Linked DNA regions of Homo sapiens. The protein of the gene in region 5 interacts with the protein of the main gene of each other region in a biochemical or structural test. Each region holds a gene or a part of one and is shown on either strand. Other genes may lie near its edges.

Region 1 (3,500 bases), on a different chromosome or scaffold from region 5:
TACGTATTTGTTTAGATCAGGGTCTGAAAAATCCCCTGATTTCTAATTTTCACTTGAAAAATAATCAAAAAGTTTTCCTATACTTATAAAAATGTGTCTCCTCCAAAACACTGGAAAAAATACCAAACTATGAAAACCACTTCACAGCCACCACCCAAGGTAACCACCATAAACACTGTAGTAAATCCCTTCCACACGTCATGATTCACTGTTACATAAAGAATGTAGGTTCATCGCAGGAAAATTAGAAAATTCAGATAGAAAAATCATCCTTTCTCATCCACAGAATCATTTTTTGATATTTCATTATATGTCATCCCAAACTTTTACACTGCTTATACATAGACTATTTTATGTCAATAGAAAGATGTGAATTCCACAGGCACATCTTTGGTGGGTAGGGGGTGGGGGGATTGGGAGGGTCCTTGGCCTTGTCAGCCAAGGCCAGACTCATCCATTTGCCCAGAAAGCCAGATCCTAGTTGTATGGGGGTGGGATCCTAGGGGTTTAGAAGACATTATGGGTGTGAGATACAGGTGTGGTGGCTTTTGTGTTGGGGTGCGCGGGCTCTCCTGGGGTTACTGTGTAGGGTACTCGCCTGTCCTCTGGCTGAGAGACCCCTCTTGATCTGGCCATTCATGCCTGTCCCCCTCCCTCCTGTATCTTAGGCCAGCGTCTAGTTAGCCCTGGCTCAGCCAACGAGACCTCATCCATCCTGGTGGAGTCAGTGACCAGGTCGTCTACAGAGACCTGCTATAGCGCCATTCCCAAGGCATCCTCGGACGCCAGCAAGGTGACCTCTAAGGGGGCAGGGCTCTCAAAGGCCTTTGTGGGCCAGAAGAGTTCCTTCCTGGTGGACTGCAGCAAAGCTGGTAGGTGTCTGGGCCTTTTCAAGGGTGGGGTGGGGCAGGGGCAGGCTGGGCACCCTGGGTACACTGGCCTTCCCTGCTGAGGTCTCCTGCAGTGCCCACCCCCATGTAGGCCAGCCGTTTGCAAGTAACCATCGTCATGACCCTGTTCTCCTGCACTTAATATTTTTAAATGATTTCCTTCTCTTTTGCCTTTTGAACTTGGGTATTTATTTGGGTTTCAAGGGTCGGTTGCCTGGGTTCTGGCATCCAGTACACCTGGGCTGGAAACCTAGTACCGCCACTTCATTCATTCATTCGTTTGTTCTAAAACTTATTTAGCCATGTGACCTTGGAAAGTTATTAAATCTCTTTCCAAAAGTCAGTTTCCTCTTCTCGGAAGTACCTTCCTTAAGGTGCTTGTGAGAGTAAACAAGAAGATTCTCATAGCCAACACTTAGAATAGCCCTTACTGTGTGCTAGGTTTTGACACCCATAACTCTTAAACCTCACAACTAGTTCGTGAGGTATGTGCTGTTCTCATTCCCTGTTTACAGATGGGGAAGCTGAGCTAGGGAGAGGTGAGATTCCAGTCCAAGGTCACCCAGGTAGCAAGTGGCAGGGCAGGGATTCGAACCCACACCGTCAGGCTCTATGAGCCTCTGCTTGTAATTGCCACGCTCTCCCACCTCTTAGGGGCCCCAGCATTATCGTGGAAGCACCTTACCTTTGGCTCTCATATTTCCTCTTCTTCCTGTGCCTGTCCTGATGCATCCGGGTGGAGTAACCACCTTTTGCCTCCTAGGCTCCAACATGCTGCTGATCGGGGTCCATGGGCCCACCACCCCCTGCGAGGAGGTCTCCATGAAGCATGTAGGCAACCAGCAATACAACGTCACATACGTCGTCAAGGAGAGGGGCGATTATGTGCTGGCTGTGAAGTGGGGGGAGGAACACATCCCTGGCAGCCCTTTTCATGTCACAGTGCCTTAAAACAGTTTTCTCAAATCCTGGAGAGAGTTCTTGTGGTTGCTTTTGTTGCTTGTTTGTAATTCATTTTATACAAAGCCCTCCAGCCTGTTTGTGGGGCTGAAACCCCATCCCTAAAATATTGCTGTTGTAAAATGCCTTCAGAAATAAGTCCTAGACTGGACTCTTGAGGGACATATTGGAGAATCTTAAGAAATGCAAGCTTGTTCAGGGGGCTGAGAAGATCCTGAGTACACTAGGTGCAAACCAGAACTCTTGGTGGAACAGACCAGCCACTGCAGCAGACAGACCAGGAACACAATGAGACTGACATTTCAAAAAAACAAAACTGGCTAGCCTGAGCTGCTGGTTCACTCTTCAGCATTTATGAAACAAGGCTAGGGGAAGATGGGCAGAGAAAAAGGGGACACCTAGTTTGGTTGTCATTTGGCAAAGGAGATGACTTAAAATCCGCTTAATCTCTTCCAGTGTCCGTGTTAATGTATTTGGCTATTAGATCACTAGCACTGCTTTACCGCTCCTCATCGCCAACACCCCCATGCTCTGTGGCCTTCTTACACTTCTCAGAGGGCAGAGTGGCAGCCGGGCACCCTACAGAAACTCAGAGGGCAGAGTGGCAGCCAGGCCCACATGTCTCTCAAGTACCTGTCCCCTCGCTCTGGTGATTATTTCTTGCAGAATCACCACACGAGACCATCCCGGCAGTCATGGTTTTGCTTTAGTTTTCCAAGTCCGTTTCAGTCCCTTCCTTGGTCTGAAGAAATTCTGCAGTGGCGAGCAGTTTCCCACTTGCCAAAGATCCCTTTTAACCAACACTAGCCCTTGTTTTTAACACACGCTCCAGCCCTTCATCAGCCTGGGCAGTCTTACCAAAATGTTTAAAGTGATCTCAGAGGGGCCCATGGATTAACGCCCTCATCCCAAGGTCCGTCCCATGACATAACACTCCACACCCGCCCCAGCCAACTTCATGGGTCACTTTTTCTGGAAAATAATGATCTGTACAGACAGGACAGAATGAAACTCCTGCGGGTCTTTGGCCTGAAAGTTGGGAATGGTTGGGGGAGAGAAGGGCAGCAGCTTATTGGTGGTCTTTTCACCATTGGCAGAAACAGTGAGAGCTGTGTGGTGCAGAAATCCAGAAATGAGGTGTAGGGAATTTTGCCTGCCTTCCTGCAGACCTGAGCTGGCTTTGGAATGAGGTTAAAGTGTCAGGGACGTTGCCTGAGCCCAAATGTGTAGTGTGGTCTGGGCAGGCAGACCTTTAGGTTTTGCTGCTTAGTCCTGAGGAAGTGGCCACTCTTGTGGCAGGTGTAGTATCTGGGGCGAGTGTTGGGGGTAAAAGCCCACCCTACAGAAAGTGGAACAGCCCGGAGCCTGATGTGAAAGGACCACGGGTGTTGTAAGCTGGGACACGGAAGCCAAACTGGAATCAAACGCCGACTGTAAATTGTATCTTATAACTTATTAAATAAAACATTTGCTCCGTAAAGTTGCCTTGGTGTTCTTGGATGATGTCGCTTCTGAATAAATTGTTTAATCCTAGGAGTTCAACACCCTCAGCCTGGGTAACAGCAAGACCCAGCCTCTACAAAAAATTAAAAAATTAGCCAGCATGGTGATGCATGCCTGCAGTCCCAGCTACTCAGGAGGCGGAGGCAG
Region 2 (4,084 bases), on a different chromosome or scaffold from region 5:
AGAGTTTATTGGGGTTTTTTGTTTGTTTGTTTTTGTTTATTGAGACAGTCTCACTCTGTCGCCCAGGCTGGAGTGCAGTGGCACGACCTCCACTCACTGCAAGCTCCACCTCCCGGGTTCGCGCCATTCTCCTGCCTCAGCCTCCTGAGTAGCTGGGACTACAGGCGCCTGCCGCCACACCCGAATAATTTTTTGTATTTTTAGTAGAGACGGGGTTTCACAGTGTTAGCCAGGATGGTTTCGATCTCCTGACCTCGTGATCCGCCCACCTTGGCCTCCCAAAGTGCTGGGATTACAGGCGTGAGCCACCACACCTGGCCGAGTTTATTGTTAATTGTAATGTGACACTATTAATGTCCTGGTTTTAATAATGTACTAGTATTGTATAAGATGTCACCACTGGGGGAAGCTGGGTGATGGGTACATGAGACCTCTCCTCACTAGTCTCCTGAGTCAATAATTTACTCAAAATAAAAAATTCAGGCCAGGTGTGGTGGCTCACACCTGTAATTCCAGCACTTTGGGAGGCTGAGGTGGGAGGATTACTTGAGGCCAGGAGTTCCAGACCAGCCTAGGTAACATAGGGAGACCCCATCTCTACAAAAAATAAATTTAAATTTAAAAAAGCCAGGCGTGGTGGCATGTGCCTGTAGCACAGCTACTGGGGAGGTTGAGGAGGGAGGATCACTTGAGCCCAGTATTGAAGCATCTGGGATCACAGCTGTGGCCACTCCATCCAGTCCATTGTTTAAAATTATTATTTGTAGGCCGGGTGCGGTGGCTTAAGCCTGTAATGCCAGCACTTTGGGAGGCTGCGGCAGGTAGATCATTTGAGGTCAGGAGTTCAAGACCAGCTTAGCCAACATGGTGAGACCCTGTCTTTACTAAAAATACAAAAAGAAAAAAAATTATCCAGGTGTGGTGGTGCACACCTGTAATCCCAGCTACTTGGGAGGCTGAGGTAGGAGAATCACTTGAACCTGGGAGGTGGAGGTTCCAGTAAGCCGAGATCGCACCACTGCACTCCAGCCTGGGTGACAGAGCGAGACTCCATCTCAAATAAATAAAAATAAAAATAAAATTATTATTTGTAGAGATGAGGTCTCACCATGTTGCCCATAAAACAATGTTGCCCACTAAATTTGTGACAATTTGTTACACAGCAATAGAGAACTAATATATAGCAAGCAAATACATAATGTGTCAGAGGTAAATGTTGCAGAGAAAAGTAAAGCGAAGTAAGGGGAATGAGAGAGCATTTGAGTGTGTATTTGTGTGAACATGCTGTTTGATAGAGTGCTCAGGGGACACCTTACTGTCTTGAATTGAAACGTTTCACTGGTTTGTCTTCTAGTCAGCCTTTGGGCTCCGTGGGAGCAGAAATGATCTTGTCCTCCCTGAATGCCCAGGGCCTGGCACAATGCAGGAGCTCAAGAGCAGAACAAGGAAGTCCAAAATTAAGTCTTTTTTTTTTTGACACAGAGTCTCGCTCTGTCGCCTAGCCTGGAGTGCAGTGGTGCGATCTTGGCTCACTGCAACCTCCGCCTCCCAGGTTCAAGTGATTCCTCTGCCTCAGCCTCTTGAGTAGCTGGAGCTACAGATGGGTGCCACTAAGCCTGGATGATTTTTGCATTTTTAGTAGAGATGGGGTTTCGCCATGTTAGCCAGGCTGGTCTAGAACTCCTGACCTCAGGTGATCCATTCACCTTGGCCTCCCAAAGTGCTGGGATTACAGGCATGAGCTACCATGCCTGGCCCAAAAGTAAGTCTTGTTTTCCAAGATCCTGAGCTTCTTGTCGGTACAGAACCACCTTTTTTGCTTCTCTGCAGTCTCCAAAATATCTCCCCTACACAGTATTCAATAATCCCTGGGATGCATTCTGTGTCTCCAGCTTTCTCCCTGGCCCTACCCCTCTCAACCTAATCCACTCCTGGGTCACCTCTCCATGTCAGGGTCACCTTTTCCAGACGGGTCTCCAATTCTGACACTTCGGCTTCCACCAGCTCAATAGAGGCTCTGGGAAAGAGGGGGTCATGGGAAGAGAGCTTGGGTCCATCTGGTCTGTCTGCCTCATCAGGCGGGATGGAGTCGCAGGGCGGTGGGTACGGAGGAGAAAGCTGCAGAGTTGAGAGGCTCGCCCCCCACCCACCTACTTGTGCTCTGCCCGCTCTGCAGTCTGGGAGCTACCACAGCCCAGGCCAGAGCAGGAAGGGTAGAAGGAGGGTGGATGTGGCCAGGGCAGGAAGTTGCTAACCGCCCCAGAGCAGGTGCTGGGGGAGGGGCAGGGGTCCCACTGAGAGGCCAGAGGGAATGCCAGCTCTAGGGGTGAGGGAAACTGCAGAGGCCAGGAGGAGCATGCAGGGGCAGAGAGCATTGGAGTACCCTGCTTTCACAGCTGGGGTACCACTTTGGCCCACAGGCTCGCTCCTGCCTCTTAGAGGCCTGCTCCCTGGAAGGAGACCTGGCCTGGGGAAAGGTGTGTGTGTGCTGGGGGTGTTAGACTTTCCCCTCCTTAGCCCCCCAGACCAGTTCACACTTACCGGAAACGGGGTGAGTCCTTGAGACACTCCTCGAAATCCAGCTTGACCGTCATCTCAGCTTGCCTGCTGTGGGGCCAGCGGGCCCTGGAGGCCGGGCCCCTGGGGATGCAGGTGGAGGCACTTTCTGTCCCAGGAAGGGGAGATGAGGGGGAAGGAGGAGAGGGACCTCCGCGGGGAAGGGCCTGGGGGCACAATTCTTTCCCCAAGGGGAAAGGGGTGTCCTAGGAGGAGCTCTCACCCCACACTTCCAGGCAGTGCTGGGAGGGGCAGGGGCGGGGCCTGGGCGGAGGATGGGGGCCTGAGATCAGAGAAGCCACAGCCCCACCCTCAGAGACGATCTGCCAGCTCCTTCCTCCTGGGGCTCTAGCCTCTGTTTCTTTCTCTCTTCGTGGTTATCTTGGGGGCCTGGCAGATCTAGGTTCAAATCCTGGCTCTGTCACTTAGAGGTTATGTGCCCCTGGACGAGCTCTCTGATTCCTCAGTTTTCTCATCTGGAAGATGGGAATGATAACCCCTTCCTCCAGGGCTGTACGAAGTGAAGAAGGTGATAGCAGTAAATTCATGGTTCACTAAATTTATTTATTTATGAGACGGAGTCTCCCTCCATCGCCCAGGCTGCAGTGCAGTGGCGCGATGTCGGCTCACTACAACCTCCGCCTCCTGGGTTCAAGCAATTCTCCTGTCTCAGCCTCCCGAGTAGCTGGGACTACAGGCTCCTGCCATCATGCCCGGCTAACTTTTTGTATTTTCAGTAGGGACGGGGTTTCACCTTGTTGGTCAGACTTGTCTCGACCTCCTGACCTCAGGTGATCCACCCACCTCGGCCTCCCAAAGTGCTAGGATTACAGGCGTGAGCCACTGTGCCCAGCTGGTTCACTATATTAATTGCATCAGTCATTGTCATCCTGCTACAGCTTGGGCCTGCTCCTGTGGAGTCCAGTACCCCGGACTGCTCCCAGCTTTCTTCGTTTTGCCGTCATATTCATGGTTCCTGTGTGTGAACTCCCCTTCCTCCTCCCCTCTCCTCAACGACTGAGCAGGCCCAGCCTGAGCACCCGATTCACAGCTCCCAGACTCTTGCTCTTCTGCTCTTTATTTCTATTCATAGGGTGGTCATGAAGGGAAGGTTGCCCCCACTCCGCCCCCAACCAGCCCCATTTTCCATTGTTTGCTTTCCTTTTCTTGAGTCCATTGAAGTCCCAGGGTTTCATCTGGAGAGAAGAGTTTGAGTTCATGGCTTTCTCGTAGCAGGCATGAGATCTTGTCCATGTGACTCTGGATCCCCTAGAACCTCCCCACTCAGCTCCTCTACCTCCCTGGCCAGTGTATGCATCCCCTTGCCTCTGCCCAGGCTCAGTGTGCCAGGCTGTGCTTGTTCTGGCTTGAGGAGTTGGGGTTGCTTCCACTCTCCCTCTCTGAACTCCTTGGGCTTTGCCAGCTCAGCCCCCCAGCCACCAGCTGGACACCACTTGAGACTCACTGTCTTTGGAGGACAGAGAAATACCTGGAGTGGGGTGGTGTGGCAGAGGAGTGAAGGAGGAGG
Region 3 (3,500 bases), on a different chromosome or scaffold from region 5:
CAGAAATAGTTTGGGTGTATTTTCTGAGACCATTTCAAACAGAGCTCAAGGAAGTTGCTCATTAGAATGCCTAAAGAGAAGAGCGACAGCTGGGCGCGGTGGCTCATGCCTGTAATCCCAGCACTTTGGGAGGCCAAGGTGGGCAGATTACCTGAGGTCAGGAGTTCGAGACCAGCCTGACCAACATGGAGAAACCCAATCTCTACTAAAAAAATACAAATTTAGCTGGGCATGGTGGCGCATGCCTGTAATCCCAGCTACTCAGAAAGCTGAGGCAGGAGAATTGCTTGAACCCAGGGGGGCAGAGATTGTGGTGAGCTGAGATTGCGCCATTGCACTCCAGCCTGGGCAACAAGAGCAAAACTCCATCTCAAAAAAAAAAAAAAAAGAGAAGAGTGACATTCTACAAAAGACAATGTAAGCCTGGTGGGTCACCTTGGATTTATCCCACTGGCCCATGGGGACCAACACACTTATTAACTACCCTACATCCCACAAAATATACTTTGCATATCTGTAGTGGTAAAGAATTAGTATTCACAGATAGTAAATCTACTGAGTTACCCAAACATGTAAATTTAGGCACACTTTAAATATACTGAAATGACCAAAGGCTGAATTTTTCCCCTTTGTTGCTAAAATCAGCACTAACTTTTGCAAATAAAGCACAATCCCTAGGCCTACCAACTTGAAAATGAAACGTGACATCCCATCTCTTACTGTGTCGGCACTAGCTCAGAGAGAAGTAAAAGGAGCCGTGTCCTTACCCTGCATTGAGCTTGGCTTTATCAACCAGAGACCGAGGCTGGTACATATCCGCAAGTGCTTCTGGGGACTGGGGGGGTTGGCTGAATGCGAGGATGCTGCAGTTTTGTTCCGTCAAAGGGCTGTCACTGAACCAAGTCATGGTGGATGATGCTGGTGTTCCATTGATGGGGTCATATATAGGGGTCATGGTTTTACTGTATAAACCAGGACTTACTGCAAGGCAGGGGGATCAAGAACTATGATATGAGAATCCAGGGATATAAATCTTCAAGAAAATATTAACATTACTTACACTAAAATGAGTTTTGACTTTAAATTTGGCACCATTTAAAATAATATAAGTCAAGCTGGGCACTGTGGCCCGCGTCTATAATCCTAGCTACTTGGGAGGCTGAGGTTGGAGAATTGTTTGAGCCTAGGAGTTTGAGACCAGCCAGGGCAACATAGCAAGACTTCATCTCAAAAAACAAACAAACAAACAAACAAAACCCAAAAAATAATATGGATCATGATGGTACAGAGATTAGTAATACACAGGTAATGGTCTTATCTGTAAATTCAGCTCCTCAAAAGCCTTGGAACTCAAATATGTAAAAGCCTTCAAAAATCAACAGGGACAAACATTGGGGACCACCTCTTTTCTTTCTTTTGTTTTTTAGACGGAGTCTCACTCTGTCGCCCAGGCTGGAGTGCTGTGGTGTGATCCTGGCTCACTGCAACCTCAACCTCCCAGGTTCAAGTGACTCTCCTGTCTGAGCCTCCTGAATAGCTGGAATTACAGGCATGAGCCACCACACCCGGCTAATGGAGACCACCTCTTTTCTAATAATTCACAGTTTTCCTATTTCAGTAGGAGTCTTGGCACTATTAGAGAACTGGAGACCTCATAGAATGCATGTACCCAATATGTTTCAGGTAGCCCCTTAAACAAATAGCAGGACTTGCCAATTTTAAGAATTCAGTAGGCTGATGATTTATAAATCAGCTGGCTCTAATTTGTACAATTTGTTCTTTTCATTGGAATACACTATGCAAGAAAGCCCTCAATCTTGGCCGGGTGTGGTGGCTCATTCCTGTAATCCCAGCATTTTGGGTGGCTGAGGCAGGCGGATCACTTGAGGCCAGGAGTTTGAGACCAGCCTGGCCAACATGGCAAAACCCTGTCTCTACTAAAAATACAAAAATTAGCCAAGTGTGATGGTGCACACCTGTAATTCCAGCTACTCAGGAGGCTGAGGCATGAGAATCACTTGAGCCCGGGAGGCAGAGGCTGCAATGAGCCGAGATTGTGCCACTGCACTCCAGCTTGGGTGACAGAGCAAGACTCTGTCTAAAAAAACAAAACAAAACAAACAAACAAAAAATGAAGAAAGAAAGCCTCAATCTTGCAAGCAAGCTAGAGATTTGATTGTTTTGATATAAAAAGAAAAGGATGCTTCTCCTCCAGAATTTTCACCTGCCCTCCTCTTGCATGCCCCATAAAAAACTGAATTCAGGAAAGAATCACACAATGATAGAATCATGAAGAGAGAAGTGTATTTGAGTGATTTAACTTATCTTTTTTCTTTTCTTTTTTTTTTTTTGAGACAGGGTCTTGCTCTGTCACCCAGCCTGAGTGCAGTGGCACAATCTTGGCACACCGCAACTTCCACCCTCAGGGCTCAAGCAATCCTCCCATCTCAGCCTTCTGAGTAGCTGGGACCACAAGCATGCAGCAGCATGCCCAGGTTATTTATTTATTTATTTTTTGTATTTTTAATGGAGATGGAGTCTCACCATATTGCCCAGGCTGGTCTCAAACTTCTGAGCTCAAGTGATCCACCCACCTCAGCCTCCCAAAGTGCTGGGATTACAAGCATGAGGCACCGTGACCAGCCAGTTACCTGTTTTCTAAATATCACTCTTTTATCCCAAATTTGTGGTCAGTGGTACTAAAATTTTGCATTCATTGGCAACATCAGATATACAATTCAAGTAATGAGTTATTAAACATGCTTGATGAAAAAAAGTCTGAAACACATTTCTGTTAATTCTAAACTTGACTAGATAGCCTTTCCTCATCACATCAGTTCTGCAATTTTATTTCTCCTTTGTTTGGTGGGGGTGGGAGGAGAGATATATTTCTCTCTTGAGTTTTACTGTACGTTCAAACAACAAAACACCTGTAACAAGTCTTACCTGATGAACCTGAAGCTGTTGGAGAACTCTCCAGGTTTAGAATATCTTCAATTATGGGTTCCTTATTATTTTTGTCTTTTTTCTTCTTCTTCTTAAAATAGTCACCAGACGGCTTTAACAAGGAAAGCTCTTCTGATCTTCTAATATCTAGAAATAAATATTTTTTAAAAATGAAGAAAAAGTAAAAAGAAAACTCCTTCTAAGACTCAGGGTCATTTTGTGCATTTAAAATCATTTCTCAGGAAATTTCTGAAAAGTAAATGGGACTAAACTGCATCCCTTTTGAAGAAACAGAAGGGGAAAGGGGAACAGAGACCTCCAAAGTAGGTGGGGGGAGAAAACGGTGGAGGGAGATTCAGTCTAGTGAAATTTCTGGTTAGAAAAATTATTATAAAAATATTTCAAATGTATCTAAAGCAAAGGGAATGGTATAATGTCCCCTTCATGGGCTCCCCAGCTTCAGTCATTACTAGCATTATGCTATTCTTGTTACCTATTTACCACCAACTTTACCTCCCTCTCCCCTTTCTTCCTGATATGGTTTGGATGTGTCT
Region 4 (4,009 bases), on a different chromosome or scaffold from region 5:
CTCTAATAAACACATGTTGTTTACTTTTGTTTTCTATGTGCAATCTTTGTTGTAGAGCTACTACTACTACTACTACACCAGCAAAAGAGAAAACCTCTCACTCAAGATATACACTGTGGGTCACTATTTTGATACTTTAGTGTCCACTAACATTAAATACTTGGTGTTTTATCCCTAAAACTTGACATCTATTCTTTAAAAAAAAAAAAAAAAATCACAGCTGGGAAAGGAGTATTTAAAGGATGTTTGCTTTTGAGTTTTGTCACAAGGAGTGTTTTTAAAATACGATTTATCACAATAAAATTAAGTGAAATTCTCACTGTTCTCAAATAATTCCTCATGTTTTCCCGAAGAAATTGTTTATTTTGAGAAAATTCTTTCAGCATACCAGTTTTTAGACATAATCATTTTTATAACTGATGGATCCACAGCAAACGTTGTTATTTTACGTGTAACTTAAAACTGTAAAGAGATAAATTGCTTTCACATAAACTACATGTGACTACAGGCAATTATTAGAGCTGCAATCTGAAATATGCACACATTGTCTACCTGTGTTTGAAAGAGAAGATTATTTAACAAGGGAGTACACACAAGTCATCTCTATGACCTATTGAAAAAATGTCCCATAAATATTCATTCTTCTGACATGAACTATCATTCCAATAAAATGTCACTGTCAACGAGTATATAGAATAACATATGGGGCTTTTTAAAATCCCATCGACTATTTTTCAACTCAATTTATTTCACTGTAATAGAAACTTTCCATTTTCCCTTTTAGCTAGCCCTATAATTAATTGCACTGTCTGACCACCACAACCTATGAGAACTTGTGTAAAGAACGCAATGTCATCACCCAAAAGTTTCTATTAAGCACTTGTCAAGGGTAGCATGGAACAGTTTTTAAAAAACCAGGGAAATCACTTGGGCTTTCTAAAATTTTTACAACTATAGTTGGGTTATCCAAGAGATGTTTTAAGGCGAAGATATGAATGACAATTGATGACTCCAAAAATACCCAGGATAAATTGGATAGCCACGATTTTAGAAACTAAAGAGCTTCCCTTGAATTGTATCTAGTGAATACTCTCCAGGCTTCCTCCCTCCCAGTTGATTTCATTTGTCCATCAATACAACTTTTAATAGTTTCTCAAGTATGGAAATCAACCCCGCTATTTCCAAGGTACTGCTGAATGAAGACCTTGACATTTTTTTTAAATGTCATCTTAGAAAGATTCTCCAAGCAATACCAGTCTCACCTACGACATCTTCACGTTAAAAGGCCTCTACCGTACTCCATATACAGTATCCCAATACCAACCTGGCATCCTTCATCCTGAGCTATAACAACCAAGTTTCACTCAGCTATGTCCAGGTAACTGAAAGTATTGCTGGGGCTGCCTAACCTGCCCCATCAAGTTTTATACACACCCTGTGCTGAAGACATCTCACCAGAAAGAAGGTTCACTCACTTCATTTTGTGGGATCATAACCCACGGCACAGCAAACGCCTTCTGCAAGAGAAGGTAGGAGCCACCGAAGGCTGTGGCTTTTGCAGGGTAATTGCATGCACGCAAGAGATTCTCTGCCAATTTCATTTAACTAGACAAAAAAGGCTGCGTTCAAAGCTGCAAATATGTAATAAATGTTGATGGAAAGCGGGCGGAACGTCGATTTTCTTCAAGCAACACTAGTACATGTACAAGTTCTGCACCAGGGCTCAGAGGAAAAGTAGCTTACTGACGCATTGATGGAAGGCTATTTTAAAATTACTCAAAGAATCTAAGGCATCAATCTGACTGGGAGGCTCATACCTCCTCTCCATACACGCAGTCTGTTTTCCTACCTAATTTAAGAATGAATCGCTGGCAGCCACCAGGTGCAATAACCGTGAGGAGGAGGACGTATATCCATCACAATGCATAATGAGGTGTGCCAACCCCGGAGCTGGTGCCCGTCCTTACCTTAGCAGATTAGACAGGGGCAGGGGTCCGGATCCACCGCCCAGGATCCCTCCTTTCCTGCCAGACAGGAGTTTCTCCACCAGAGCCACATTTCCAGTGCGAGCAGCTTCCAGCAGCTCCTGGTCCTTCCCCATAGTCTCTCACCGACTCCCCCACAGAGTCCTTGCCCCCCTCGGGTCCTCCTCCCCACCCACCCCCACTCCCCAAAATCCAGGGCCCTCTTCGCCCCACCCTAAAATAATGCAAGAGCTTCAGCACGGAGAGCTCCCTGCAGCCCCAGGCAGGGAGCACGACTCTCTCCTCCTCTTCGGGGCGCAGCTTTTACAATGGGGATCAGACCATGTCTTGAAAGAGGGGCTGGCCGAGCTGGGAGCCGCGACGCGCCCCCACAGCCACTCCCCTGAATTCCCAAGGCCTCGTTCCCGCGGGTGCGGCGTGAGGGGGTGGGGACTCGGGGGTGCTTTTGAGGAGCGGGAGGAGGGTGGTGAGGACTGAGGTCGGAGGAGGAGGAGGAGGCGGCAGAGAGAGTCCTAGCTGGAGCGGGAGCGCAGGGAACACCCGCGGTGGCAGCAGCGGCCCGCGCGCCCTCGCGCCCGACCCGGGCTCGCCTCGGCTTCCTCGGCGGTTACGCGGGGGCGGCGTCCGCGGCGGGGAGGAGCGCGGCGGCGGCGGCGGCGGCTCGTGCGCTGTGGCCCGCGCCGAGGCAGGGCGGTGGGGGGCAGCCGCAGCGGGCGCGTGCCGAGGGCGGCGGCGGCGGCGAGGCCTGGCGCGCGGGGGGCGTGTGCGCGCGGGCAGGTGCGGCCCCTGGTGCGGCCCGAGTTGGGTGGCGGGCTGGCGGGGAGGGGCCGGGCCGGCTGAGGCGGGGCTTCGGCCCTGAGATTCTCTTCGTTCTCGTGGGCGGGGACCCTCCCTCCTCCACTCTCCTTGGAAGAGCGTTAACCGTGTGAGGACTGGAGTTCCCCGGGCCGCGTCGGCTCCTCCTCGGCCCGGCGGGCCCCGGCAACACGCCTCGGGTCTGTCACGACGCCTGAGGAAAATCCTCCGTGACAGGAATGGGGAGGCTGGTGACACTGGGGAGGGGCCCTTTGGCCACCGCTTCCATCAGAGTCTAGGCAACTTGACCGGCATTTCACCCTTCCGCTTTACCTCCCCAAGAGAGCCTGAGATCTGCCCTTGGTTAGAAAGAAGAGGCTCGTTTCGTCCTAGTTTCTGTGGCACTGGCCACCGAGCAGTTTGCGACTGTTTCAGTTTTTCTGGAGTCTTTAATCAGCCCATATTTTAGTTGGGCTTTGGAGATCTGCTGACTTGTAAGAATACCAGGAAAAAGGCTCTCATTGAAAATTTATCCACATCTACACTCGAAAAATATAAATGGGCATGGATTAGAGATCCACTTTAATTTGCATATATCATCAGCAATTCATTGTGCATGGTTGGCATGACTTGTTAGATGCTCTCCTTGGCCGTGGTGGAGAACGCGCGTTTATTTTCTATTAAAACTTCCTGTTACACCTTGTGCTTTGCATTGTCCTTGGAATAGACTTCATAAATGTTCACTTGTTGATAATTGATTGGTAAGAAGAGGACTTAATAGGCACTGTGCTTACAACAACCCAGTGAACTGGATATTATTATATCCATTTTAGAAATGAGGAAATAGGGCTCAAATGGTTAATTAAATTTCTCAAGATGCCACATGGAGTAAGTGGCTGACTCAGAACTAGACCCCAGAACAGACTCACTCCAGACACCATGTGCTTCCCAATATACGTTCCTGCCCCCCATGGAAAAGCGAAATGGACAGACAATAATTATTGCATGCATTTGATGAGTAGTTGCTACATACCAGACACTATGCTAAGTGCTTTCCATGTTCTCATTAAGCCTTGCAACAATCGCATGAGATAGGACCATTTTCATCTCTATTTTGGAGATGAAGAAACTGATTACCCGCAAGATAATAGGGATAGAAAGTAACTGAGCCAAGGCTCAAATCCGGCACTGTCTGCTGTAGGCAAAGATTTTCAATAAATAACTGGGGG
Region 5 (3,500 bases):
TTTGGATTTCGTGATCAATTTTCACTATCCAACCCTAAAATTTACTCATAACAAATTTGTTATTTAAGGATAATACTGGTGGGGCACAGTGGCTCACGCCTGTAATCCCAGCACTTTGGGAGACCGAGGTGGGCAGAGCACTGGAGGTCAGGAGTTCAAGGCCAGCCCAGCCAATGTGGTGAAACCCCATCTCTACTAAAAACAAAAAAATTAGCCTAGCATGGTGGCAGGCACCTGTAATCCCAGGTACTCGGGAGGCTGAGGCAGGAGAATTGCTGGAATCTGGAAGTCAGAGGTTGCAGTGAGCTGATATCACACCACTGCACTCCAGGCTGGGCGACAGAGAGAGACTGTCTCAAAATAAATAAATAAATAAACAGAAAAAGAACAAAAGATAATAGGATAATATCATTCTAGGCACAGGACTGTTATGAGGATTAGAGCTGACAGGCTGATTTCATATACTGGAGTGCATTTGCCAAATACAACCACCCCATACAAAACAGAGTACTGACTCCCTGTGACAGTTGAGAGAAGTGAAGTGACTCAATGCTGTTCTACTTACTAAGTGGAAGAGGTGGGATTTGACCTGAGGTCTAACTGATTGCAAAGCACATTCTCTTTTCACTACAACATGGCTGCTGTTTCTATATCACATTACTTATTTTACGGTCTTTCTAAACGCGAAGTTAACATACAAAAAGAAAAGCCACAATAGCGATATTTAAAGCCAGACTTAAAAAAAGAACAGCAATAGTGATAAAGGACACACAGTGCAGTAAAAAAGATAGAAGTTCACATGCAAAGGCAGAAAGTGAAACAAAATACGAACGGCAATTTAGAGACCAGCTTTACGTCCGTAGTTTGGATTCTTGAAATTATTAATAGGACTCTTGTAAATCGGATTTTCTTGCTAAAGTAAAAGAAATAGTTTCTAATGATTTCATCAGAAAAAAAAAATCCCTTTATAGTGTTTGAACACTATAAATGTCTTTTTTTTTATTTCTACCCTTCTGAAATTTGTAATTTAAAAAATTGATAATTTTTAAAAACCCAAGCAAATTGTAGTAAAGTGCAACTAACTACAAAATTCATTTACAATTTAAAAATACTGAAGATTGGCATTGCTTTCTTGTATCAAAAGATGAATACACAAAGGCCAACATTTGGTTACCCCACCCTCTGACTCCATATTTCAAAGCACTCAATGCTAACATAACCTTTCGGTCACTTAGGGCTTTTAAGATTTTTATAAGCCAAAGTTTACTGAGATATAATTTTCATAGAGGAACATACATCTTTTTAAAGTACATAGTTCTGTGAGTTTTCAAATACATAAATCCACCCACAATCAAGATCATCCCAAGGAAGATCCCTTACGCCCCTCTGTGGTCAACACTTTCCCCCATTCCAGCCCCTAGCAACCACTGATTTTTGCCCCTACAGTTTTGCTTTTCCAGAATGTCCTCTAAATGGAATCATATAGTATATAGCAGGGGTGTCCAATCTTTTGGCTTCCCTGGGCCACACTGGAAGAAGAAGAATTGTCTTGGGCCACACATAAAATACACTAACGATAGCTGATGAGCTTTAAAAAAAAGTTACCAAAAAAAAATAATAATAATAATTACAATTTCTAAGAAAGTTTACAAATTTGTGTTGGGGCCACATTCAAAGCTATTCTGGGCTGCATGTCCTGGCCGACGAGCTGCGAGTTGGACAAGCTTGGTATATAACCTTTTGAATCTGGCTTTCACTGAAGGTTTTTTTTGTTTGTTTGTTTTAAAGAAAGAAGCAGCTTTCCATTGAATAGCTTGCTACACAGATAACATTATTTAGGATTCTACTTCACATTAGATGAAAAGGCAGATTTAGGATCAAAACTATTAAAGAAATAAAAATACTGGCCACAGTAACCAGAATATACATGCTTATAATCAATGTTTTGTTTCAATGGGATATATTTAGGATGCTTTCTGTTTTTCACTAAATGCAAATTCCTTGAGTAAGAAACTTTTGGGGGAATAAAATACTTAGAAAGGACTTTAATAATCAGCCTGACAGCTAATACATAAGTCTTAGGAGTATTACATTTACTTTATAAGCCACTTTGCTTTTTGGATGTTTTGTAACTTACCGTGTCCCATTTGGCATTCATTTTCTCCTTTTCAAATTTAGCAAACTCCCTTCTGTCATGAATTATCATTAAAAGCTTCCATATCAGCAGTAATGCAAGGCCAATAAGAACAATTCCAGCAACCACACCAGCTACAATTGGAATGATGTCTGGACCAGTGGGACACTCTGGAAAATAAGAAGGTAATAATGAGCACCACAAAGAGCTGTGCAGTGTCTTATAAAAAACATACAGGAATAAACACCCAAGAGAGTGAACGCACACTATCCCAAAGAATCTATAAAATAGCTCTTAGAACTAACAAGTGAGTTTACAAGGTTGCAGGATACATGATCAATGAACAAAAATCATGTATTTTTCTATATATATAATTTATTTCTACATATTGAAAATATAAGTTTTTAAACAGTAATATTTACTACAGAATGAAAAAGCATGAAAAACTTACATATAAGTCTAACAAAATATATGCAAGATTTGCATGTTAAGAATTACTAAATACTGATAAAAAGAAATCTTTCAGACTGAATAAATGGAGAGATATTCCATGTGCAGGAGTTACAAAACCTAATACCGTTAAGACGTCAATTCTTCCCAATTTGATCTATAAACTCAATGGTATCCCACTCAAACTCCTGGCAGAACTTCTGTAGCAATCAGTAAGCCACTTCTAAAATTTACATGGAAGGCAGGGAACTAAGGAAGTGTCTCAAAAACACTTTTGTAAAAGAATAAAGTTGGAAGACCCTGCTTTCAGGCCTAGCTATAAAGAAAGCTACAAGACCATGTGGTATAGCTAACACTCAGATACATGGAACAGAATACAGAGTCAGAAACAGGCCTACACATGTAAGGTCACCTGATGTTCAACAAAGGTGGAGAAAAGACAGTCTTTTTTCAACAAATGCCCCTAGAACAAGTGGACACTGACATGAAAAAAACTGAGCCTTTTGTCACACACTAACTCAAAATGAGTTACAGATCTAAATGTGAAACCCCAGAAACTATAAAACTTCTACCAAAAAACAGAGGAGAAAAATCCTTATAATCTTGGGTTAGGCAGAGTTCTTAAAGACAATGTAAAAGCAAGAGCCACAGAAGAAAAACTTGGTAAACTGTACTTAATCAAAATTAAAACCTGTGGTGTTCAGAAGACACTTAAAAAAATGAAATGATAAGGAGACACAGGCTGGGAGACAATATTTGCAAAACACCTAGCTGATAATTCAAAACAGTATGGGAGTCTAAGAGTCTGGCAGCTTCTTAACAAAGTTAAACATATGCTTACCATATGCTCCAAAATGCCATTTTTAGTATTTACCCAAGAGAAATGAAAGCTTATGTTCACACAAAAACATGTACA
Region 6 (3,500 bases), on a different chromosome or scaffold from region 5:
CCTGGAGGGAGAGAAGGGGTGGTCTAGGAGGTCGGGAGGGGAAGAGCCGCCTGAGGTCCTGGAGTGCATCCTAGCCCACACCGTCACCTCAGGACAGAGGGCATCTTCCCCGGTCTCCAGGAGGAAACAGGGCCGGTGAGAGCATTCACCTGCCTAGCCCACAAGTGGGGATCCCCCCACCCAGCCCCTGGCCCTGTGCACTTACCCTTGAGGTTGAGCTGCTGAATGGGGTCCCCAGGGGCCTCGTCCTGGCTCTTGTAGTAGGACAGTGTGGTCTCCTTGAACACCACCCAGTGTTGGCGGTAGCCCTTCAGGGTCAGCTTCCGGGGCCTTCGTGGGATGCTGGGGTTTGTGAAAGGCCGCCTCACCCCCTCCCTCCATATGCAGACCAACCCCTCCAGCAGGGCTGCCTACTCTGGCCCCCAACTCACCGAAAGATTCGGAGATGGTCCTTGAGCTCTGGGATGGTGGTGAGGCTGTCCTATGGGAGGACCAGAGTCAGAGGGGCACCCGGTACCTCACAGTTCTCCCTGCCCAGCCCCTGCCCTGAGCCCCTCCTCACCAGCACATCTGTGGGCGCCGACCCCTCCAGCTTCACCTCCAGGTTGCTCAGGGCCACATCCAGGTCGTCCAGCCCTGGGTCTGTGCCAGCCGGCTCCCCCACCTCCCCGCTCTGGGACAGCTTGTTGATGTGGTACTAGGTGGTCATGAAGCCAGGGAGGGCTGAGTCCAGCAGCCTGGTCCCCTAGCAGTACCCCCAGGCCGGGCTTCCCTGGAGGTAGCCCCCACTCAGGAAGGCCCTTCCTGCCCTGGGACTGGCTCACCTCCCACCTGCCCTGGTGCCCCCAGGCCCGCCTGGTACCTGCAGGGCGGCAAACACCATCATCTCCTCCTCGGTGCAGTCAATCTCCTCCAGCAGCAGGTCCCACCGGGCCTGCTCATACAGCTGTGTCAGCCGCACGGGGTCTGTCTGGAGCGGGGGGAGAGGAGGCTGGAGGCTGGGCTGGTCAGATGCCAGCTGCCCTGGACGCCCTGCACTGAGCCCCTGCCAGCCTTGGCCCTCTGCCCTGCCCTCCTTGCTGAGGCAGATTCATTCAGTGGCCAGACATGGGCCACAGACCTCAACCCCATCCTTAATAGCCTGCTAGCCCCCTGCTGCCCAGGCCTGCACGTCTAAACCTTGGCTTGGTTGTGCTGATGTTTACTGTGTGCTGGCATGCTGCCCTGGGTGCAGGAGAGACCGAGTAAACCAATCAATAAGTCAAATAATCCAAGGCTGCAATAAACACTATCAAGGAAACAGTTTCCACAGGGAAGCTCACATGAGCCCTCAGTCTAAGGCCCCCCCAAGTTCAATGGAGATGACAGAATGGAACATGGGGAAGCAGTCAGGGAAGGCTTCCCTGAGGAGGTGACAAGCTGAGTAGAGATAGGAAGGATGACAGTGGGCCACTCAAGGGAAGCGTGAAGGAAGAGGATTCCAGAGAAAAGGAACTGGGAAGGCAGAGACTCCAAGAGGGGATCCCAGTTACCCACAGAAGACCAACAATCCCGCTGAAACTCACCCAAAATTGATAGCAAAGGTTTAGGAAGATAAACCCAAAAGGACAAAGGACAGGCCGGGGCGGTGGCTTGCGCCTGTAATCCCAGCACTTTGGGAGGCCAAGGCAGGCAGATAGCTTGAGCCCAGGAGTTTCAGACCAGCTTGGGCAACATGGTGAAACCCTATCTCTACTAAAAATACAAAAAATTAGCCACATGAGGTGGTGCGTGCCTGTAGTCCCAGGTACTCAGGATGCTGAGGTGGGAGAATCACCTGAACCCATGAGGTTGAGGGTGCAGTGAGCTGTAATTGCACCATTGCACTCCAGCTTGGGGGATAGAGTGAGACCTTGTCTCCAAAAGAAAGAAAAAGAAGGCCAGGCGCAGTGGCTCACGCCTGTAATCCCAGCACTTTGGGAGGCCGAGGTCGGTGGATCACGAGGTCAGGAGATCAAGACCATCCTGGCTAACACAGTGAAACCCTGTCTCTACTAATAATACAAAAAAATTAGCCAGGCGTGGTGGCGGGCGCCTGTAATCCCAGCTACTCAGGACGCTGAGGCAGGAGAACGGCGTGAACCCGGGAGGCGGAGCTTGCAGTGAGCCGAGATCGTGCCACTGCACTCCAGCCTGGGCGACAGAGCGAGACTCCGTCACAAAAAAAAAAAAAAAAAAAAAGGAAAAAGGAAATAATTTGGAAGATGGAGAGCAAACTGTAGATGGGAACTGGGTTATGCAGAGAGCGCTAGGGCCTCACGCCTTGTCCCTCTCCTGTCTGGTAAATCCACCAATGAGACTTGAAAATAGGCGGAAAGCAATCAGCAAAAAGAACAGAGATCTCAACAGAGGCATCCAGTTTGCATGGCGGACCCCTGGCAGGCTCTGATGGGGATCCTCTGGATGAGATGCGAGGGTGAGCTGAAGAGAGGACTCTGGATAAAGTCCAAGAAAAAAAGCAGGTCCCTCCCCAGCTCCATGCAGCCAAGTGATGGCAAGGAGACACCTGGCAGAAGCTGGGACTCACTCTCTGGAGATGCTGAGCCAGATGCACCCCTGCATTTGGTACCCCAGACACAGCTGGACGGGGTGGGGGTTGCACTAGGGTGAAAACAGACAATTTTTTTTTTTTAAGATGGAGTTTTGCTCTTGTTGCCCAGGCTGGAGTACAATGGCACGATCTTGGCTCACCGCAACCTCCGCCTCCCGGGTTCAAGCGATTCTCCTGCCTCAGCCTCCTGAGTAGCTGGGATTACAGGCATGCACCACCACGCCCAGCTACTTTTGTATTTTTAGTAGATACAGGCTTTCTCCATGTTGATCAGGCTGGTCTCAAATTCCTGACCTCAGGTGATCCACCTGCCTTGGCCTCCCAAAGTGCTGGGATTACAGGCGTGAGCCACCGTGCCCGGCAAAAACACAAATTTAAAGAAAGCTGGCATTCAGATGAGTGACACACCCACACCCTTTCCCACTTGTCACCCAAGACATTGGCAGGAAGCCTTCTATCTCCAGTTGAAAGATCAGTGGGGTTGCCACTGAGAGGCTGAGCCACCAGAGAAATGCCCGACAAAGAGTGGCAGCCCGGCCCCATCGCCTCCAGGGGGCCACCAAGATGCCAAGCCCTACTCACACACTCAGGGTCTCCAATTGGTTTCTTAGAGCTTCACTTTTAAATATGAATGGACAGGCATGGACTACCCACATTTAAGGAAAGCTTCAAGAGTGAACCATAGAGACCAAGACAACAAGAATAAAACAGCTTGGAGGAAATAAAGGCCAGGTAGGGCGCAGAAGAGAACTTCAAACGTGAATCAAAATCCTTGTAGAGTACAAAAATTAGCTGGGCATGGTGGCACCCGCCTTTTTTTTTTTTTTTTTTTTTTGAGATGGAGTCTCGCTCTGTCACCCAGGCTGGAGTGCAGTGGCGTGATCTCGGCTCACTGCAAGCTCCGCCTCCC
Region 7 (3,500 bases), on a different chromosome or scaffold from region 5:
ACTGCAGCCTCAACCTCCTGGGCCCAAGCGATCCTCCCACCTCAGCCTCCTGAGTAGCTGGGACCATAGGTGTGTGCCACCACACCTGGCTAATTTTTAAATTTTTTGTAGAGACAAGGTCTCCCTACGTTGCCCACGTTAGTCTTGAACTCCTGGGCTCAAGTGATCCTCCCACCTCAGTTTTCCAAAGTGTTGGGATTACAGGCATGAGCCACTGCACCTGGCGATAACTATTATTATAGGACATTGCCTACTGTACTATGTAGTGGTTGTACCAGGAGCATGTTTTATTTTTAGAATTAGTTTGTAAATGGTTAAACTGAAGTCAGATGGACCTGTATTCCAATCCAGGTTTCATAACTTTGTTGGCCTTGGGCAATTTACTTCTCTAAGTCTTAGTTTTTGTTTTTGTAAAATGGATATAATAATACTTGCCTCATAAGAGTATTTTAAGAATGATTAGGCTGGGCGCGGTGGCTCACGCCTGTAATCCCAGTACTTTGGGAGACCGAGGTGAGCGGATCACGAGGTCAGGAGATTGAGACCATCCTGGCTAACACGGTGAAAGCCCGTCTCTACTAAAAATACAAAAAAATTAGCCGGGCATGGTGGCGGGCACCTGTAGTCCCAGCTACTCAAGAGGCTGAGGCAGGAGAATGGCGTGAACCCTGGAGGTGGAGCTTGCAGTGAGCCGAGATTGCACCACTGCACTCCAGCCTGGGTGACAGAGTGAGACTCTGTCTCAAAAAAATAAATAAATAAATAAATAAATAAATAAATAAATAAATAAATAAAAAAGACTGATTGAGGCTGGGCATGGTGGCTCATGCCCATAATCCCAGCACTTTGGGAGGCCGAGGAGGGTGGATTGCTTAAGCCCAGGAGTTCAAGACTAGCCTGAGCAACATGGTGAAACTCCATCTCTACAAAAAATACAGAAATTAGCCAGGTGTAGTGGCACATGCCTGCGGTCATAGCTACTCAAGAAGCTGAGGTTGGAGGATCACCTGAGCCTGGGGAGGTCGAGGCTGCAGTGAGCCATGAATGTGCCACTGCACTCCAGCCTGGGTGACATAGTGAGACCCTATGTCAAAAAAACAACAAAAAAGATTGATTGACATAATATGCGTAAGGCCCCTGGCACATAGTAAGTGCTTTAAAACAGTAGAAGTCATGGTGGTTGCTGATACTGGCATGAGGTCCTGTTTCTAGTGTGGATGGTCTAGGCCAGCTGTCCCCGTGGCTAACTAGGGGTGGGTGGTCTCTGCTCTTCCTTTCTTCCCCCATGGCCCCATGGTCCCCACCTTTCCAGTTGTAGGCACCGGGGGCGCCGAAGTACACAGTGTTCTGGGTGAAGCCACCGCTGGTGCCCAGCTGGCACATGCCCGTCTCCAGGTAGTCTGTGTTGCTATTGCACATCTCGTTGTGGTAGGTCTGCCAGTCATCACTGGAGTCCAGCTCTAGGTCATTGCCTCGCACGTAGCACTTGCCCACCATGCGCCGCTGGTCTTCTGACCCTGACCACAGCACCTGGGTGTAGCGGTGGGCACAGACCTGGGGACCCCCCAAACACAGGCAGCCTTAGTCAGGCACAGGGACCCGGGTCAGCTGTCTCTTTTACCCTGTAAGCCTCTGGCTTTGCCAAACAGGAGTCAAAGGAGATCTCCTGGCTTCTCCTTCTCCCAGTGATACTTAAACCTGCATCTCCTTTCCAGAATTCAGAAATCTGCTCTGAGGGTCAGGAACACTTTTTGGAAAGCTGTAAAGTGTGGATCTGAGAGTGGCTTAGAGATCTCAGCAAAGGGAAAGCAGGGAAGGATGAGAGACTGTGGGGTTCAGGCTCTTGGTCTAGAAGGGGTTAGTAACAGAGAGATTAAGGGACTTGCTGCTCTGCCATCTCCAGATGACCCTGTCCTCTTAATGAAAGGACCATTATTAAAATAATAATTACAATGACGGTAATAATAATAGCAGCAGCTAACACTTCATGAGTGCTTCCTATATGCCAGGCACAATTCTGAACTCCTCACATATTAAGTGTTAAGCCTGCTAGTGACCCTATGGTGTAGGAATGATTATTTCCCCCATTTTAGATAAACTGAGGCATGGAGAGCTCAGTAACCTGCATAAGATCTCATATCTAGAGAGAGGCAGAGAATATTCAAACCAAGGCTGTCTCCTTCCAAAATCTGAGCTCTTAAGCACATGCTGTGCTGCTTCACGGAGGGGAGAATCTATGCGCAGCCTCTCTGGGTGCACTTTAGCTGCTCAGTATATATTTATTGGGCAAACTGATGGGCCAGAATAGGGTGACTTAAAACAGCCTGGAGACAGGCAAAGTCCAGAAGTAGGCCCTGGTTCTTGTTTACTTGCTTTCTGTGGTCCCTTCTAGCTGTGAGCTCCACCAGCATGTTACCTGAGCCTGTCTTAGTCACTGCTAAGCTTCTAGGAATAGCACAGTGTTTGGTACACAGTAGGGGCTCACCAAATATCTGTTGAATGAACAGTGAGTAAATAACTGCTAAAGGATCCAGGGTGCAGAATCACTTTAAATGGGCTCCTAGACCACAGCCATCCATAACAGGGTTATCAAAAAGGCATTTCAGTGAACTGATGCCAACCTGGAGCTTAAAACAGTGTTCAAAGGTGACAGAAATCCCAGCAGTGGTGGCTTATGGGGTGGCAAATGATTAGAAGGGGTTACAAGGGCACCTTCTGGAGTGATTTTAAGATATATCTTTGGTTATACAGGTACATACATTTGTAAAAATTCATTGAAGTTTGAAATCTGTACATTTCACTGTATGTAAACATTACATCAATTTTTTCCTTTTTGAGACAGGATCTGACTCTGTCACCCAGGCTGGAGTGCAGTGGCATGATCTCAGCTCACTCCAACCTTTCTCTCCGGGGTTCAAGTGATCCTCCCACCTCAGCCTCCCAGGCAGCTGGGATTACAGGCGCATACCACCATGCCGGGCTAATTTATATATTTTTGGTAGAGATGGAATTTTGCCGTGTTGCCCAGGTTGATCACAAACTCCTAGGCTCAAACGATCCTCCTGCCTCATCCCAAAGGAATGAGCCACCGAGCCTGGCCACATCAAATTTTAAAATGAGAAAAAAGCCAGGCATTGTTGCTCTTGCCTATAATCCCAACTACTTGGGAGGCCGAGGCAGGAGGATCACTTGAGCCCAGGAGTTCAAGGCTACAGTGAGCTATGATCATGTCACCCACTCCAGCCTGGGTGACAGAGCCAGACCTCATCTCTAAGAGAAAAAAAAAAAAAAGAAAGAAAAAGAAAAATGGGGCCACATACGGTGGCTCACGCCTGAAATCCTAGCACTAGCAGTTTGGGAGGCCAAGGCAGGAGGATCACTTGAGCCCAGGAGTTTGAGACCAGCCTGGGCAACACAGTCAGACCCTGTCTCTATAAAAACTTTAAAAATTAGCTTGGGAGGCTAAGGCTGGAGGGTCGCTTGAGTCTGGGAAGTCAAGG

Evidence for each region.
Region 1: the proteins of ITGB1 (region 5) and FLNB form a complex in vitro, tested with the Homo sapiens proteins (one study listed by BioGRID).
Region 2: the proteins of ITGB1 (region 5) and ACAP1 form a complex in vitro, tested with the Homo sapiens proteins (one study listed by BioGRID).
Region 3: the proteins of ITGB1 (region 5) and FERMT1 form a complex in vitro, tested with the Homo sapiens proteins (one study listed by BioGRID).
Region 4: the proteins of ITGB1 (region 5) and ANKS1B form a complex in vitro, tested with the Homo sapiens proteins (one study listed by IntAct).
Region 6: the proteins of ITGB1 (region 5) and FERMT3 form a complex in vitro, tested with the Homo sapiens proteins (one study listed by BioGRID).
Region 7: the proteins of ITGB1 (region 5) and ITGA3 form a complex in vitro, tested with the Homo sapiens proteins (one study listed by BioGRID).

The regions. Positions count from the first base shown.
Region 1 is NC_000003.12:58,168,922-58,172,421, forward strand, and holds the end of FLNB (filamin-B), read left to right. Parts: intron 1-668; coding exon 669-872; intron 873-1,575; exon of another isoform or gene 1,576-1,653; coding exon 1,654-1,841; 3' UTR 1,842-2,855; coding exon of another isoform or gene 2,856-2,952; 3' UTR 2,953-3,149; coding exon of another isoform or gene 3,150-3,240; 3' UTR 3,241-3,330; downstream 3,331-3,500. Other genes in the region: uncharacterized protein LOC124909485, read left to right, coding at 2,856-2,952, 3,150-3,240. UniProt on the Homo sapiens protein: Connects cell membrane constituents to the actin cytoskeleton. May promote orthogonal branching of actin filaments and links actin filaments to membrane glycoproteins. Anchors various transmembrane proteins to the actin cytoskeleton.
Region 2 is NC_000017.11:7,335,245-7,339,328, reverse strand, and holds the start of ACAP1 (arf-GAP with coiled-coil, ANK repeat and PH domain-containing protein 1), read right to left. Parts: upstream 2,801-4,084; 5' UTR 2,595-2,800; coding exon 2,542-2,594; intron 2,067-2,541; exon of another isoform or gene 2,018-2,066; coding exon 1,960-2,017; intron 1-1,959. UniProt on the Homo sapiens protein: GTPase-activating protein (GAP) for ADP ribosylation factor 6 (ARF6) required for clathrin-dependent export of proteins from recycling endosomes to trans-Golgi network and cell surface.
Region 3 is NC_000020.11:6,109,531-6,113,030, forward strand, and holds part of FERMT1 (fermitin family homolog 1), read right to left. Parts: intron 3,094-3,500; coding exon 2,947-3,093; intron 982-2,946; coding exon 768-981; intron 1-767. UniProt on the Homo sapiens protein: Involved in cell adhesion. Contributes to integrin activation. When coexpressed with talin, potentiates activation of ITGA2B. Required for normal keratinocyte proliferation.
Region 4 is NC_000012.12:99,982,137-99,986,145, forward strand, and holds the start of ANKS1B (ankyrin repeat and sterile alpha motif domain-containing protein 1B), read right to left. Parts: upstream 2,801-4,009; 5' UTR 2,102-2,800; coding exon 1,968-2,101; intron 1-1,967. UniProt on the Homo sapiens protein: Isoform 2 may participate in the regulation of nucleoplasmic coilin protein interactions in neuronal and transformed cells. Isoform 3 can regulate global protein synthesis by altering nucleolar numbers.
Region 5 is NC_000010.11:32,906,231-32,909,730, forward strand, and holds part of ITGB1 (integrin beta-1 isoform 1A precursor), read right to left. Parts: intron 2,305-3,500; coding exon 2,138-2,304; intron 914-2,137; coding exon of another isoform or gene 839-913; exon of another isoform or gene 833-838; intron 1-832.
Region 6 is NC_000011.10:64,216,721-64,220,220, reverse strand, and holds part of FERMT3 (fermitin family homolog 3 short isoform), read right to left. Parts: intron 971-3,500; coding exon 863-970; intron 698-862; coding exon 563-697; intron 482-562; coding exon 432-481; intron 343-431; coding exon of another isoform or gene 331-342; coding exon 206-330; intron 2-205; coding exon 1-1. UniProt on the Homo sapiens protein: Plays a central role in cell adhesion in hematopoietic cells. Acts by activating the integrin beta-1-3 (ITGB1, ITGB2 and ITGB3). Required for integrin-mediated platelet adhesion and leukocyte adhesion to endothelial cells.
Region 7 is NC_000017.11:50,066,110-50,069,609, reverse strand, and holds part of ITGA3 (integrin alpha-3 preproprotein), read right to left. Parts: intron 1,555-3,500; coding exon 1,305-1,554; intron 1-1,304.